2 linked regions of the Homo sapiens genome follow. The protein of the gene in region 1 interacts with the protein of each later gene in a pairwise test. Each region holds a gene or a part of one and is shown on either strand. Other genes may lie near its edges. The genes, in order: CBS and GAL.

The links.
Region 2: the proteins of CBS (region 1) and GAL interact in binary tests that used the Homo sapiens proteins (3 or more experiments, as listed by UniProt).

Annotation. Positions count from the first base shown.
Region 1 is NC_000021.9:43,052,637-43,059,070, reverse strand, and holds the end of CBS (cystathionine beta-synthase), read left to right. Parts: intron 1-102; coding exon 103-237; intron 238-663; exon of another isoform or gene 664-780; intron 781-817; coding exon 818-926; intron 927-2,183; coding exon 2,184-2,268; intron 2,269-2,971; coding exon of another isoform or gene 2,972-3,013; intron 3,014-5,087; coding exon 5,088-5,191; 3' UTR 5,192-5,880; downstream 5,881-6,434. UniProt on the Homo sapiens protein: Hydro-lyase catalyzing the first step of the transsulfuration pathway, where the hydroxyl group of L-serine is displaced by L-homocysteine in a beta-replacement reaction to form L-cystathionine, the precursor of L-cysteine.
Region 2 is NC_000011.10:68,687,532-68,691,952, reverse strand, and holds the end of GAL (galanin peptides preproprotein), read right to left. Parts: intron 4,113-4,421; exon of another isoform or gene 3,950-4,112; intron 3,940-3,949; coding exon 3,853-3,939; intron 3,162-3,852; exon of another isoform or gene 3,105-3,161; coding exon 3,027-3,104; intron 1,037-3,026; coding exon 966-1,036; 3' UTR 778-965; downstream 1-777. UniProt on the Homo sapiens protein: Endocrine hormone of the central and peripheral nervous systems that binds and activates the G protein-coupled receptors GALR1, GALR2, and GALR3.

The sequences.
Region 1 (6,434 bases):
GCAGGAGAGCGGTCCCTGTGGCCTCCTGCTGAGGTGCTGCCGGCGGGGGTGCGAGAGCGTTTGTCCTTATCCTGATCCCCCCGACCTGCCCTCTTCCCTCAGGTGGTGGCACCTCCGTGTTCAGGAGCTGGGCCTGTCAGCCCCGCTGACCGTGCTCCCGACCATCACCTGTGGGCACACCATCGAGATCCTCCGGGAGAAGGGCTTCGACCAGGCGCCCGTGGTGGATGAGGCGGGGTCAGTCTCAGCCCCTGCTCAGAGCTCAGTCCTGGGTTCTGTCTGCCCAGCTCCACCCCGTCAGTGTCACTGGACAGGGCAGCCATGCAGACCCTGCAGCTGGGCTGATAGGCCCGCCTGGGCCGCCTCATACAGACGTTCAGGGCATTGGAGGCCCCTTGCCGGTCCCTGAGCAGCCTGGGGCAGGGCTGCCGTGCTCACTCCAGGCCCTCAGACCTCAGCCCACCCACCCTTTGTGTGCAGGCTGTCCTGGGCCCACCTGGAGGTCAGGGGAGAGATGCCCCGAGGACATGTCTGACAGCAGAAAGCCTTGGCACACATGCCCAGTGACCACTGAGAGCCCCACGTCGCGGAAACCTGACGGCTGGTCACCCTTGACCCTGGCTGAACGGGTCCAAGGACTCTTGGTTTCTTTCTCCCCACCAGGGCCCAGACTGGTTCCTGCCGCGTGTAGGCTCGTGGCAGAGGACTTCCATGTGTGGCCAGAGAGCGCTCCTCCCTGGGGCAGCTGAGCGTGTGCCCCACCGTCCTGGGAGGGGTGAGGTATGAGCGCTGACCCCTGCCTGCCCCCGTCCCACAGGGTAATCCTGGGAATGGTGACGCTTGGGAACATGCTCTCGTCCCTGCTTGCCGGGAAGGTGCAGCCGTCAGACCAAGTTGGCAAAGTCATCTACAAGCAGTTCAAACAGGTACCCAGTCACCTACAGGCAGCTCAAACAGATGCGCAGTCACCTACAGGCAGCTCAAACAGGTGCCCGGTCACCTACACGCAGCTCAAACAGGTGCGCGGTCACCTACAGGCAGCTCAAACAGGTGAGCGGTCACCTACAGGCAGCTCAAACAGGTACCCGGTCACCTACAGGCAGCTCAAACAGGTGCGCGGTCAGCTACAGGCAGCTCAAGCGGGTGCGCGGTCACCTACAGGCAGCTCAAACGGGTGCCCAGTCACCTACAGGCAGCTCAAACGGGTGCCCGGTCACCTACAGGCAGCTCAAACGGGTGCCCGGTCACCTACAGGCAGCTCAAACGGGTGCGCGGTCACCTACAGGCAGCTCAAACGGGTGCCCAGTCACCTACAGGCAGCTCAAACAGGTGCGCGGTCACCTACAGGCAGCTCAAACAGGTGCCCGGTCAGCTACAGGCAGCTCAAACAGGTGCGCGGTCACCTACACGCAGTTCAAACAGGTGCGCAGTCACCTACACGCGGCTCAAACAGGTACTCAGGCACTTCGGGACCCCAGAGGGTGCCAGAGTACTCCAGCCTCGAAGGCGGGACACCGCGCTTCCCGTGTGGGGGTGCTGGGTCCTCGACCCTCAACACCACTTAGGCCGAAGCTGGCTGCACCCCTCAAACCATGAAGCTGAGAAGCACCCACTTTACAAGTGCAGCAGCCGGAGAGCAGGCTCTCATCAGTGCAGGCTCATCCACACCAGCCGTGTTTTGGGGACTTAAGGAGGTCATTCGCGCTCAGAGGCTGTCCCGGGCACCATGCGGCGTCTGCCGGGGTCTTTCTCCTGCCCAGCCTCATTTGCCTGTGCATGCACTTGGTTATCCAACAAGAGCTAGAACATTCTGGGAGAAGCCCACGGTGGCTCCTTGCCGGGCTGGTCAGACTCCGTGGTTGTCCTGAGACACCCACCCTCTGCTGCCCTGAGGGTGGCCCAGGAAAGTTTGTGTGACCTTCCACACGGATCCCCTGGGACATGCAGGTGTGGCTCTTGACACTGGAAAGGCTGAGGGTTCTGCCCAAACCTAGGAGTGAATTCGACTTCTTTCCCATCTCACACACACACCCGAGACGTCACCCGAATCCACGTATTTCCCACGTTCGGCTGCCACTGCCTCCCGGGTGGGCTTTGCAGGACCCACCATCGCATCCCCTCTCACTCCACAGAAAACTCGTGGGGCCATGTTCCCCCTGCCACTGACCACGCTTCCCTTGCAGATCCGCCTCACGGACACGCTGGGCAGGCTCTCGCACATCCTGGAGATGGACCACTTCGCCCTGGTGGTGCACGAGCAGATCCAGTGTGAGTGGGGCCCTGCTCTGTGCGTGGGGTTCTCACTGGGGTCAGGCCACCAAGCCTGGCCTCTGCCATGGGCAGCAGCTGGGCCCCCCATCCCCTGCGGGGTGTTAGGGGAGTGGGTGGTGCCGACCTTCAGTGACACCCAGTCTTTATGCCTGGGCCTCCCACATGCCCTGGGCTGGTGGGCTGTACCTGTGATTCCTGCAGGGACCCCTCATCAGGCCACACTGGGTAGGGCCCTTTGTCCAGCATGCAGAGGCTCAGGAGTCCAGGCCCCTTGCCTCCGGGGAGGCCAGCAGTCTTGGGGATTCTCAGGGACAAGCCCAGAAACATCTAGAAGGGTTTCAAGTCCTGACCCTGGCATTCGGAGGGCTGCTCTGAATGGAAGCCTCATGTGGGTCTCACAGGAGCCACTGATGGGCTGTCCTCAGAGCCCCGCTCCCAGCAAGCTCATGAGGTTTTGCAACTCCTGAGCGCATCCCCGGGCGTCCCCACCACATCCCCACAGGCCAGGAGAGTCGCTCGCAGGTTTTGGGTCATAGATGGCAGCCCTGGGCCTGGGGCCCACAGGAAGAGTTGGGAGGGGCCCTGGAGCCTGGAGCCTGCCCACCCACCAGGCCTGTGTGCAGGGGGTGAGCGCTCGGTGGCTGAGGCTGGTCCGTGAGGGCCCCAAGTCTAACCCCATCTCCCGTCCTTGGCTCTGCAGCGCAGGACCAGGCCTGGGCAGGCGTGGTGGGGGGGCCTGCAGGTAGGTATCACCCACCCCTCAGAATGGCTCTCAGGCTCAGATTCACAGCCTCCCCATGGCAAATGGAGGCCTTCCAGGGTCCTGGACCCACCCCCAAGCTTGGGTAGGAGGGATCCCCCTCTTAATCTCACATTTACTTGTGTTTGAACATCTCAGAAAAAAAAAAAGATGCAAATTCCAATGTCAGGGTCCCCAAATCAAGTCTTCCTGGAGCATGTCCACGCTTGTCACCACCGTCTGTGGCTGCTTTCAAGCACGTCAGGGCTGCGTGCTCATAACAGAGACGGCACGGCCCCCAAGACCTAAAATACCACCAGCTGGCCCTTGTCGGAAAGTCCCCTGGCTGGCCCTAGTCCATTGACTCTGGGCCGAGCTGCCAGGGCCACAGAAGCCTGCGGCACTCAGGGCTCCCAGGGCTCCCTTCTCCAACAGTTGCTGTGCCTCCGTTTCCCCAAAATGCAAGGAGCTGATCTCATCTGTGTTCCCTATCTTTTCCTGGGGCTCTAAGTGGGCCACCCCAAGGGACCTCTGCCTACAAAGAGAGGAGTGACAGCCGTGGCGGAGTTGGGACGGGCTCCGAGGGCTCTTCCTCACCCGCACCTTGCTCACCCCTCTGTGCCTCATGACAGCTGGTGTAGGGTCCTGTGGAGACGCAGGACCAAGAGGATGTGTGGGGAGCGGGGAGAGAGAGGGAACGAGATCTGTGTTAAGGAACTGGATCATGAGATCACGGAGGCTGACAAACCCTGAGATCTGCAGGGTGAGGCGGCAGGCCGGAGACTGGAGAGCCAGCAGTTCAAGCCCCAAGGCAGGAAATTCCACCTTTGGTTCTATTCAGGCCTTCAACTGCTTGGGTGAGGCCCTCCACAGTAGCACACGTTATCTGCCTCTTGACTCTTGTGCTAATCCGGAATCCCCTCACACATGCCCAGAACGACGTGTGACCAATGCCTGGGCTCCCACGGCCCCGTTAATCTGTATTAAAATTAACCATCACAACAGCCCTGTCTGGGTATGTGGCATGGGAGCCTCGGCCAGCATTAACACCGGGTCTACGCTTGCCAGGAGAAAGCAGGAGGGGTGAAGACAGAATCAGGCCAGAGATGGAAGCTGTGTGCTGCCCATGGTGGCAAGGGGTTTTTGTCTGTTTTTAGAGACAGGGTCTTGCTCTGTTGCCGACTGGAGTGCAGTAGTGCCATCATAGCTCGCTGCAGCCTCGACCTGCTGTGCTCAACTGATCCTTCTGCCTCAGTCTCCCAAGTAGCTGGGACCACAAGCGTGTGCCACCATGCTCGACTAATTTATTTTTAAAAATATTCTGTAGAGACAGGGTCTCAATATGTTGCCCAGGCTGGTCCCAGACTTCCGGGCTTAAATGATCCTCCCACCTTGGCCTCCCACAGCGCTGGGATCACAGGTGTGAGCCACTGTGCCCGGCCCTGTAAGCGGGTTTGAATTTCATGCCCACACCGGCTCTGAAGTCATGAGTGCCTCAGGAGCTCAGCCGGTGGGCCAGGGAAGGGTGTGTCCTGACCTGCGGTGGGTGGAGCCTGGCCTGGGGCCCAGGGGACTCACGTGGTGGGTAGAACCTGGCCTGGGGGCTCATGGGGCTCATGTCAGAAGAACACTGGCTTGGCCAGGCACAGTGGCTCACGCCTGTAATCCCAGCACTTTGGGAGCCGAGGCAAGTGGATCACTTGAGGTCAGGAGTTCAAGGCCAGCCTGGCCAACATGGCAAAACCCCATCTCTACTAAAAATACAAAAATTAGCTGGGTGTGGTGATGTGCACCTGAAGTCCCAGATACTCGGGAGTCTGAGGCACGAGAATCACTTGAACCCAGGAGGTGGAGGTTGCAGTGAGCCAAGACTGCACCACTGCACTCCAGCCTAGGGGACAGAGTGAGGCCCTGTCTCAGAAAAAAAAAAAGGAACACAGCCTTCGCCGCTGGGCTCCAGCCACCCTGGGCCCCCATGGTGCACAGGTGCCCCAGGCCCTCAGGAGCCTCCTGCCCCGCAGCAGCCCACCCAGCCTCCCACGGCACCTGCAAACCCACTGCCTCGTTCTCCCCTCAGACCACAGCACCGGGAAGTCCAGTCAGCGGCAGATGGTGTTCGGGGTGGTCACCGCCATTGACTTGCTGAACTTCGTGGCCGCCCAGGAGCGGGACCAGAAGTGAAGTCCGGAGCGCTGGGCGGTGCGGAGCGGGCCCGCCACCCTTGCCCACTTCTCCTTCGCTTTCCTGAGCCCTAAACACACGCGTGATTGGTAACTGCCTGGCCTGGCACCGTTATCCCTGCACACGGCACAGAGCATCCGTCTCCCCTCGTTAACACATGGCTTCCTAAATGGCCCTGTTTACGGCCTATGAGATGAAATATGTGATTTTCTCTAATGTAACTTCCTCTTAGGATGTTTCACCAAGGAAATATTGAGAGAGAAGTCGGCCAGGTAGGATGAACACAGGCAATGACTGCGCAGAGTGGATTAAAGGCAAAAGAGAGAAGAGTCCAGGAAGGGGCGGGGAGAAGCCTGGGTGGCTCAGCATCCTCCACGGGCTGCGCCGTCTGCTCGGGGCTGAGCTGGCGGGAGCAGTTTGCGTGTTTGGGTTTTTTAATTGAGATGAAATTCAAATAACCTAAAAATCAATCACTTGAAAGTGAACAATCAGCGGCATTTAGTACATCCAGAAAGTTGTGTAGGCACCACCTCTGTCACGTTCTGGAACATTCTGTCATCACCCCGTGAAGCAATCATTTCCCCTCCCGTCTTCCTCCTCCCCTGGCAACTGCTGATCGACTTTGTGTCTCTGTTGTCTAAAATAGGTTTTCCCTGTTCTGGACATTTCATATAAATGGAATCACACAATTGTGGCCTCGTGTCTAACTTATTTCACTTTGCATGGTATTTTCAGGCATGTCAGAGCACGTGTACTTGGTTTCTTTTTGTGGCCGAATAATAAGCCATTGTGTGGATAGACCACATTTTGGTTCCTCATTTATCGGTGATGGACACCTGGTTGTTTCTGCTTTTCAGCCCTTGTGAGTAACCTGCTGTGCACCTTCATGGCCGAGTATGTCTGGACACCTCTTTTCACTTTTCTTGGGTGTGTACCCAGGAGTGGCATTGCTGGTTAATGTGGTAACTCCATGTTTAATTTTTTTTTTTTTTTTTTTTTGAGATGGAGTCTTGCTCTGTTGCCAGGCTGGAGTACAATGGCACAATCTCGGCTCACTGCAACCTCCACCTCCTGGGTTCAAGCGATTCTCCTGCCTCAGCCTCCCGAGTAGCCAGGATTACAAGTGTGCACCACTGTGCCTGGCTAATTTTTGTATTTTTGTAGAGACAGGGTTTTACCATGTTGGCCAGGCTGGTCTTGAACTCCTGACCTCAGGTGATCCACCTGCCTCAGCCTCCCAAAG
Region 2 (4,421 bases), on another chromosome or scaffold:
GCAAATGATTCTCCAACCTCAGCCTCCCAAGTAGCTTGGATTACAAGCGTGCACCACCATGCCCGGCTGATTTTTGTATTTTTAGTAGAGATGGGGTTTCACTATGTTAGCCAAGCTGGTCACAAACTCCTGACCTCAAGTGATCCGCCCACCTCGGCCTCCCAAAGTGCTGGGATTACAGGCATGAGCCACCGCGACAGGTCGCCTGCCTTCTTTTCGAAACTTCTGGGATGATCTTTTTATCTCTGCTCAAAAGACTCAGTCTCTGTCACGTTAAGAGATATTCCCACAGGCCTTCCTTCACACAGCACCATCCCTGCACACACCTCCTGCCCTTGCCTTTCTACCTGCCCGCCCATCTCTCCTCTCCTGCCTTGCTCCTGGCCCTCCCACCTGGCCAACACGTCTGTTCTCAGCACTGACCACCTCCATGAGTACCACGCAACTCACCCATCTGTTTAAGGTTGTTGTAGTCTTTTTCATTCCCATCTCCCTAAAATATCAGCTCCACGAGGGCAGGGGTTTTGTCTGTTTTGTGTTTTTGTTCATCTCAGTAACAGACTTACCTTCATAATTACATTTGACTCAGCTTAATATGGAGATAAATTTATGTCCCCTGGACATGCAATAACAGGTGGTGTCTCAGATGCTCTTGACGGTAGAATTTGGGTTTAAAATTCATGTCTAATCCACGATTATGATCAAGCTTTATCTTTTAAAACCCATGGGTGGCGCTGGTGATGAGACAGAGGTGTGGAAGAAAAAGACAATTGCAAGTAATTGCTATTCTTTATTTTGCCACTCAAAATAATTACCAAAAAAAAAAAATCTTAAATGATAACAACACAACATCAAGGCAAAGAGAACAGGAATGGCTGACTCTGCATAAATTGGCCGAAGATTATCCATTATCTTAAGGTTTGACTTCAGGTTACAGCACACAGACAAACATGCCCAGGAGGCTCTCAGGACCGCTCGATGTCTTCTGAGGAGGCTGCGGCGGGGAGATCCAGGAGGCGGTCGAGGGCACCGGCCTCTGCAAAGGGAAGAGCCACATCTGAGCAGCAACTTCTTAATATGCACATGAGAGAATTACAACCACGACACATGCTACAGGAAGCGGCGTGTGGTCGTCCTCTGTAAAGATTCTTACCAGATTAAACCCAGAATCAGGGACAACACTCTGTATTCCTCACTTCGTAATGATTTAACTCCCACAGTTAGTAAGCATTTAAAACTGTCAGACTTTTAAATTCAGGCTTTAAAGAGGTATAATTCCTAGCTGAGTAATGAGAGCTGGTATATCCTAAGGAAAGAGTTTCCATGTTACAAAATTAAAAACAAATGAAAAACAAAAATCTAGCAGAGTCCCTCTGCCCCTTGTAGGAAAAGTCACCCCAGCTTTTCTCCCAGAGGCTCCACTGGGCTCCAACAGAGGGAACTTGGTGACTCGGTTTTGAGATTTCTAATGAACACCGCCTTTTCCAAGACCTTCTCTGGCAGTCTCCTTCCCCCGCTCCCCTCCCCTCACTCCTCTTCCCTCTCCCCATCGCCACCTAAAGTGCAGCCCGATAACACTGCAAATGAAAAACATCCTGATCCAAAATGAACCCAAGGATTAGCCTTGATTTTTCAAAACTGGACAAAACTGTGATGTGCAACTGAAGGTCTCCACTGGAGAGGCTAACGGTCCATCCCTCCTCCCCACCACCAGCTCCCTGTTAACTCTCAGAGCAGCAGGTGAAGGTCTTCTCCACTGGAGAGGCTAAGTGGTCCATCCCTCCTCCCCTCCACCACCTCCCCCTTAACTCTCAGAGCACCAGGTGAAGGTCTTCTCTGCTGGAGAGGCAAAGCGGTCTATCCCTCCTCCCCACCACTGCCTCCCCCTTAACTCTCAGAGCACCAGGTGAAGGTCTTCTCTGCTGGAGAGGCAAAGCGGTCCATCCCTCCTCCCCACCACCACCTCCCTGTTAACCCTCAGAGCACCGGGGCCGCTTTCCGGCTCCCTCCACTGCTGCAGTAGGACCTGTGTGGTTATCTGATCAAGGCCAGATGCCCATCGTAGAATGAATGCCAAGCGTAGTGTGCGGAGGTCTCCTCATCCCCAGTGTTTGCAGAAGACACTGGAAGCCAGGATCAGAGCCTTTCCAGTTAGATTTCAAGGCAGCCTGCCTGGCAGGAAGGCTGCATAGAGAAACACTGCAGTCTAAGATATGGGCTTCTATTAATTTCCCATGCTTAGAAAATATGGTTTAGGGCCAGGCACAGTGGCTCACGCCTGTAATCCCAGCACTTTGGGAGACTGAGGCAGACAGGTCACTTGAGGCCAGGAGTTCAAGATGAGCCTGGCCAACATGATGAACCCCAGCCTCTACTAAAAATACAAAAATTAGCCAGGCATAATTGTGCGCACCTGTTTTCCCAGCTACCTGGGAAGAAGAGGCACGAGAATCACTTGAGCCCAGGAGGCAGAGGCTGCAGTGAGCTGAGATTGCACCACTACATTCGAGCCTGGGCGACAGAGTGAGATGAAGGAAGGAAGGAAGAAAGAGAGAGAGAAAGAGGGAGGAAGAAAAAGGAAGGAAGGAAGAGAAAGAAGAAAGAAAGAAAAGAGAGAAGAGAAAGAAAAGACAGAGAAAAAAGAAAAGAGAAAAGGTTTAGGACGGTTCACAAAGAACTTGGCCTGTAGTATACCTCTGCCCTAAAAGGTACAGCAGTTGTCACCGTGTGAATAGATATGGTTCCAGTAGAATGAGCTGCACCCTGAGGCCCACTCTCTTCCTGGGACCAGCGCTGGCCCGATGGCCCTCCACGACGGTAGAATGCCCCTGCCGCAATCCCAGCCCTCTGGAGCTAGCTCTAGTGTTACATTCTCTGTTATCCCGACACACAGCCAAACAGGACTTTGTACGTAGATAAGTAATCGGCTACTTCCCAGGGGGATTCTATGGGTTCTCTTCTCGATGGGCCTTTTACGTTTCCAGTGTACTAAGAGATGAATGTTAAGTTGATGATATTTCACATACCTTTGAGATGCAAGAAAGACAGAAACTCAATGATTGTGCGCATGATATTGTTTTCAGGTATGGACCTGTCAAAGCTTCCTAGAAGAGAAAAGATCAACATTCACGACTTGTGCAGAGGGTGCTTCAGTGTCTCAGGTCATCCCCCTCCCTACAGAGGAGCTGGGCGCTGCAAGGTCAATGATCTGATCCCAGCAGCCTGAGGCCCTGCTGTGCTTTCCAAGGCCCTTGTTCAATGTGAGGGAGTTGGGGAGATATCCAGTTCGAGGCCTCGCTTTTCTTCTTCTTCTTCTTTTTAATTGAGATGGAGTCTCACTCTGTTGCCTAGGCTGGAATGCAGTGTCATGATCTTGGCTCACTGCAACCTCCGCCTCCCAGGTTCAAGTGATTCTCGAGCCTCTGCCTCCCAAGTAGCTGGGATGACAGGCACCCACCACCACGCCTGGCTAATTTTTATATTTTTGGTAGAGACAGGGTTTTGCCATGTTGGCCAGGCTGGTCTTGAACTCCAGACCTCAGGTGATCCACCCGCATCAGCCTCCCAGAGTGCTGGGATTACAGGCAGGAGCCATCGTGCCCAGTCCCGCTCTTCTGGAGGCCCTGGTGCCTGGGCAGCCTCCCAGCCTAGAAGGACCCCTTGCTGTCTCGGGTTTGCACGTTCTGTTTGCAGCTGCTGACAGGTGTGGCGAGGCCACATCGTCTTAGTCAAGTCATGGCCAGGCTTGGGCTGCAGCTGTGGACAGCCCCGACACCCACAGCTGTCCCCTGCATGCACCTGGGAGCTGGTGGAAGTGAGGTGCCCCGGGGCCCGGGATAGGAGTCCTCTCACCTGGTTTCATGTCATCTTCGGGCCGCAGCTCCCGCTTGCTGGTGAGGCCATTCTTGTCGCTGAATGACCTGTGGTTGCCAACGGCATCTGTTTGCAGATCAGAGAGGAAAGCCTCTGGGTGTGACTGTCATGCACGCCCTCCCCACACCCAAAGAAGGACACAGGGCTGCCTGTAGCCAACACACACACGCAACTCGACTGTGAAATAGAGCCCAGGGACAGACACCAGAGCAGAGGGAGCGATTCTCCACCCAGCTGAGGTAAGAGCTTGGCCGCTCACACCAGGGTCAAAGGGAATGTGAGGGTTTGCACAGGGTGGGTGGGAGAAAGGGAGGTGTGGCTCCTGAAGTGGGGGAGAGGCCCAGAACCTGCCCTGTTGCAGGGGTTGCGCCTGGGTCCAGAGGAGCTGGCATCTGAGCTGGCACTGAGCTGGCATCAAACTGGGTGACTCCCTGGCAGACAACAGGAGCTGGGTCCTCATGTCCCTGAAAGCATGGGGGACGCTGAAGAGTTTAAGTTGTGACTGAATCTGATTTTTATTTTCACTCTGGCAGCTGTGTGCAAGATGG